Regions from separate parts of the Homo sapiens genome. Here region 1 is linked to region 2. Evidence: fine-mapped expression QTL. Tissue or cell type: whole blood. Region 2 holds a variant in brackets; the other region holds the start of a gene. All regions are shown on one strand. Distances are from middle to middle.

What was found. PIP is the estimated chance that this variant, and not a neighbour inherited with it, causes the effect.
Region 1: it holds the start of TNFSF13, and the variant in region 2 is fine-mapped to the expression of TNFSF13 in whole blood (TOPMed, PIP above 0.99).

What each region holds. Positions count from the first base shown.
Region 1 is chr17:7,557,601-7,560,100 of GRCh38, reverse strand. It overlaps TNFSF13 (TNF superfamily member 13), which reads right to left and starts at 1,351. Exons shown (of 6, transcript NM_003808.4): 1 at 804-1,351; 2 at 399-477; 3 at 208-255; 4 at 1-52. The coding sequence starts at 1,061. TNFSF12-TNFSF13 (TNFSF12-TNFSF13 readthrough) reads right to left here. Exons shown (of 11, transcript NM_172089.4): 7 at 399-477; 8 at 208-255; 9 at 1-52. It overlaps TNFSF12 (TNF superfamily member 12), which reads right to left. Exons shown (of 7, transcript NM_003809.3): 7 at 2,220-2,500. RefSeq lists enhancers at 1,303-1,352, 2,163-2,222, 1,808-2,500.
Region 2 is chr17:7,425,679-7,428,430 of GRCh38, reverse strand. It overlaps SPEM2 (SPEM family member 2), which reads right to left. Exons shown (of 3, transcript NM_175734.5): 1 at 2,605-2,752; 2 at 2,381-2,438; 3 at 863-2,243. The coding sequence starts at 2,742. The coding sequence ends at 934. Among named protein-coding and RNA genes, the nearest start is that of SPEM2, 1.4 kb to the right of the region's middle. RefSeq lists an enhancer at 1,379-1,880. The variant G/A (reference allele first, on the strand shown) is at 1,460.

The DNA of each region.
Region 1 (2,500 bases), 130 kb before region 2:
CTCCCACGCCTAAGAGCTGGTTGCCACATCACCTCTGTCACATCGGAGTCATCTGGAGGTGAGAGTGTGTCGGTCAGGACTTCTTGGCACTCTCAGGTGCTTTTTGGTTCTTTCCCTTTCACCTATAAGGACCCCTTGAGCCCAAGTGCCAGCCCGAGTTCCTGGTTATTGCCCCTCCCCAAAGCCATTATTTAAAATAGTGCTCACCCTTGGAGGTGGCGTTAATGGGAACCAGGTGCAGGACAGAGTGCTGCTCTGAGGAGAGAAGGAGGGAATCTCAGCCGCATCCACTTTCCCCCGTTGTGCTGTTGGCAGCCTCCACCCTCACCCTGACTCGGGCTTACAATCCCCACGCTGCTTGATCACCTCCCACCCCTGCTGCACCCTGGAAGCCTCACTCTTCTGTTTTTGGGTGAGCACTGCTCTCCTTTTCCGGGATCTCTCCCCATTCTCCCAGGCTTCCAGGGCATCGGAACTCTGCTCATGGAAAGAGGGTCAAGGTTAGGTTAAGATGCGAGGGTCCCAGCCAGCCTGCCTTCCCAGCCCTCCCCTGCCCCCGAGATGCCTCAGATCTCTCACGCACCTTTTCCCAGCACCCTGAGTGTTGGTGCTGGCTGCCCTCCAGGATTTGTTAGGTATGAGAAGCATTAACCTTTAACAGTTTCCTTTCCTGGAATGGCCGCGCCCCTGACTTCCAAACCGGAGACCCTCTCTTGCACCCCCTTGAAACTTTGCAGACCAGGAGGCCCAGAGACCCCCCATGCTAACCATCCTCTCCCAGACACCCTCCTCCCCTCACTCACCTGCTCCGGGAGACTCTGCCAGGGATACCCTTCCCCATTCTGGGAGGGGCCTCCTGTCCCCTGCAGCCGGCTCACCTCTCTCCTGAGGCTCTGCAGCTCTGTTTGTTGGGTCAGCAGAGCCATGGCACAAGCCACGGCCCCCAGAGCTGCCCCCCAACTCAACCAGAGGGCAACTGAGAGTGCCGGCTCTCTGACTGGGCCCCCCATGTTGCCTGGAGGCCCTTTGGGGGCTAGCAAGAAAGGAGATGAGGCTGGCATGAGCTGGGGACCCTGCCAACAGCTGTGGTTTCAAGAGTGGGGTAGCAAGGAGGTGGCGGGGCGGGTAAGGGTACGGGCAGTGGTGCAGAAGGGAAGAAGGTTGTTACGCAAGGAGAAATAAAAAGGAACTTGAAAATAAAAAGGAGGGAGGAGGAAAGCAAGCTAAGGGTACTGTTAGTGCTCCTGGCACTCCGTCGTGGGGCCAGCGTTGCCTTGAGACCCTCCACCCTCCCTCAGCCTCAGGAGAATTAGGTTCCAGTCCCTCTAGGAAGGACAGGGCTGCCAGTGACACCCAGGAGGAACAGGCAGTGCGCAGGAACCCTGGGGCGGCCCCAGGGTTGGGGGAGGGAAGGTTGGCTGGCTAGAGGGCATTGTGCCAGGAGCAGGATGGGGGGCCAAGCTGGGCAGTGTCCAGGGTCAGGGCGAGGGTGGAAGACCCTCGGGGTCAAGCACAGCAGAGATCGCTGGGGCAGTTCACTAGGGGTGACTGAAGGTGGGAAAGGAGGGGTGGGCTCGATGGGGAGGAGAACCAGGGGCACGGAAGCAAGAAACTGGCTGAGTTCTGGGGTTAAGGCTGGGCCGGGTGTGTTGGAATAAGGCCTGCACTACTCCCTGTGCTGAAATTGGCAAGCAGGACTTCCTGTTTCCCGAGAAAAGCTCTTACATAAGGCTCTGGACGAAGAGACAAAGCAGCGGCCTCAAGCCCCCCGGCCACTGCGGGATTCCTCCCCAGCACACAGGGTTCCGGGTTCCCGTGTGCCTGCTGACTCTCAGCCCCTCCTCCAGGCTGGCTCCTGCCCGCCCCACCTCCCAGCCAGGGCCTGTGCCAGCACCTGCTGAATGTCCGAGGCCACCAAGAGGAAGGGCCCCTGCTCCTCCCAGCCAGGAAGGGATTTCCCCGCAGGAGGAAGTCTGCCTCCTAGGCCAAGGAGGCCGCTTCTGCTGTACCTTGGGCGGAGGATTGATTTTTTTCCTGGGCAGTGTGCCTTCCTACCTCTGCTCCCACCTGGGGGCTGGAGGCATGGAGGTCCCCGCCCCCAAGCCTGAACATCATCCCGGAGTTCCAGCTGTGCCGCTCCGCAACGCCCCCCTTCACGTGGCCCCCAGCTACCCTGAGAGTGTCCCCTGAGCCCCAATAAAGAGAGAGACTATGACTTATTCTATTTAATATCCATTTATCAACATTTTGTCACAATAATAATAAAAATAATATCTGTTTTAAAAATCCACAGGGAATTCTCAAGGGAGGAGCTTGTCTTGTTTCTCGCCCCTCACATTTGGGAACTCCTGGCCTAGGCCCAGTCTCTTTGGCTTCCTGCCGCCAGGTCCAGCCCCTCTTAGTGCCTGAAGTGGGGTCTTCTGGACCCATCCTTGCCCACAGAGTACAGTGAACACAATGCCCTGGGGGTCTGTGGCCAGGGGGGAGTCGAGATCACTGG
Region 2 (2,752 bases):
GGCTAATTTTTGTATTTTTCGTAGAGATGGGGTTTCTTTCTTTTTTTTTTTTTGAGATGCAGTCTCACTCTGTCACCCAGGTTGGAGTGCAGTGGTGTGATCTCAGCTCACTGCAACCTCTGCCTCCCGGGTTCAAGTGATTCTCCTGCCTCAGCCTCCCGAGTAGCTGGGACTACAGGTGCCCACCACCACACTCAGCTAATTTTTTGTATTTCTTTAGTAGAGACGGGGTTTCACCGTGTTAGCCAGGATGGTCTCAATCTCCTGACCTCGTAATCTGCCCACCTCAGCCTCCCAAAGTGCTGGGATTACAGGCGTGAGCCACCACGCCCGACCAAGACAGGGTTTCATCATGTTGGCCAGGCCGGTCCCGAACTCCTGGCCTCAAGTGATCCGGCCTCCTAAAGTGCTGTACAGGTGTGAGCCACCGCACTCGGCCACTCCTGCAGTTTCATTTCAGAATCCTGAATCCTTTACCTCTTGACCACACCAGAGACTGGGGAGACCTCCGCCTCAGAGCCTTGGGGAAGGCATGGCTGGAATCCAGAGCCTTGGCCTGGTCCTGTACCATGTGCTAAGTAAATCCCAAAGAGCTCCACTCAAGACACTGAGTTCAGAATCCAGACCTGATCCTTGCTGGAAACAGGGAGAATAAAGAGCCTGGGTGGTTGTCGTCAGCCAGTGCAAGAGCTACGTAGTGCATGGTGCAGACTAGGAGGGCCTGCTGGCAGCCGCGTGGCCACTAAGCCAAGGGGTGCCTCACACCAAGAAGGGGACACTGGTTTCTCATTTCAGGAAGCCAAGGGCAGGGACCCAGGCTGGCCGAAGGAGTGGCACTCCCACGCTACAGACCACCACAGTGTTTCCTGGACTCTGTTTCTCTTTATTCCTCTCCCTCCATGCCCTGCCCCACACCCCACATCCGCCTGCTGGTCAGTTGAGTTTCTCGGTCTGGCTCCTGTGCAGAGAGGGCCTCAAGGTGGAGGTGGAAGCCGGTGGCAGTGAGCTGGACCTGGCTCTGCTCTTCTGCACCTGCCGCTTCAGCTCCAGGCTGTCGTACACCTGGTAGTTGGCATTGCCCCCTGGATTCCGGCTGAGTGGGACAAACATGGTCGGGGGAGGGGCAGGGTCCGCAGCCTGGACTTTGGGCCAGGGCTGGGAGGAATGGGGGACCAGCACTGAGCTTGGAGCTGGGGTCCGTTGATGGGAGGCCTCGTCCAACACCGTGAGGGAGGCAGAGGTAGTCAGAGGACGCCAGGCGGGCAGAGCCTCAGCCCAGTCAGCTGCCCGACGCCGCACCTCACGGGGGTCCTGGGAGCTGTAGCCCAAGGGTTCCGTGGATGGGTGGGGACTGCGGTGGGACTGGCCATAGGCGTGACCAAGCAGGCTCTGCTGGTGGGACTGTGGGGAGTGGTGCTCCCGGCAGCCCTGGGCCTCAGGCCGGGCGTTCCGGGACACC[G/A]AGGCAGGGGGGCGCTCAAAGCCCTCCGTGCCACGACGCCGCTGATCCCAGGAGTCATACAGCATCCAGCCCACTGAGGGGTAAGGGCTGTGCCCCACGGGGACCCAAGAGGGGTTAGGGGGCAGCCGGTGGGGAGGTGGTGGAGACGAGGCCCACTGCTCAGCCTCCACATTGCCCCACAGTCGGGATTGGGAACCGTGGCGCCCATAGGACTGCAGCCTCAGCTCAGACCTGGCCTCTACACGCTTGGGCATGCAGCGCAGCTCAGGTGACAGGTAGAGAGAGGGTGGTGGCAGACTGGCCAGGATACCACCCTGGTGGCCCCACAGCCCCACATTGGAGGGCAGGCCCGCTCTCTGATAAAACCCGCCCCAGCCGCGACGTGGGTACTTGGGATACGGGAAGGGCAGGTTGTCCTCCTCCTCCAGGTAGGAATCCGGGTCCTCCTGATCAAAGAAAGGCACTCGGTGTAGTTGTGACATCTTTTGGCTGCGATGTGGGTTACGGAAGACTGAGTGGCTATGGGGGATTTGTCTGTAGTTCTGCGGCCGCTGCTGGTGGTTGCAGCAGCGACGGCGACAACGGCGGTGGCGGCGGCGGCGGCGACGAACACAGCGAAGAAGACTGCTACTGTGATGGTTGGAGAAATGGTGGCAGGAGAAAGAGGAGTACTGCGTGGGTCGGGACATCTTCACCTGCACAGGGTCCAGGATGCAGTGGATGTGGACATCCTGAGCCTTGTCTGGGGGACCACTTGGGGGACTTTCACTGGCCTGAATTTCATCTGGGGAAGGCAAGAGTCCATGAAGTCAGGGCAATTGTCAGAAGAGCTCAAGGTTGGGAACACTGGGGCCTGGGTTTCTAGGGCCATTGTCAGGGGTGGGGATGGGGGTCCCCTACCTCTCCAGCAGCCACACTTACTTTTCTGAGTAGCCCAATCAATCATCTTGTCTAAGGCGTTCTGGAGTCCATGCCACATCTGGGGCAGGGTGGAAGAGAGTGAAGGCCAGGCCCTCCGCGCCCAGCACCACCACCCCTGCCCCCGCCCCAATCTAGACCGCACCTGCAGGTGGAGATGTAGGCTGCAGCTGGCTCCCACCCTTGGCCCTGTTCACCCCCAGAGGTAGTCCACAATCATCACTGACCATAGTTGCCACGTTGATGCCAATGTTGACAAGAACGATGAGGCCCAGCAGCAGGAGTAAGATGTCCTCGGCATCGTGGGGGCTTTCTTGGTATTGATTGCAACATCTCACGGTGTTATGCCATAGCTGGTTTTCCATGGAGGGGGGG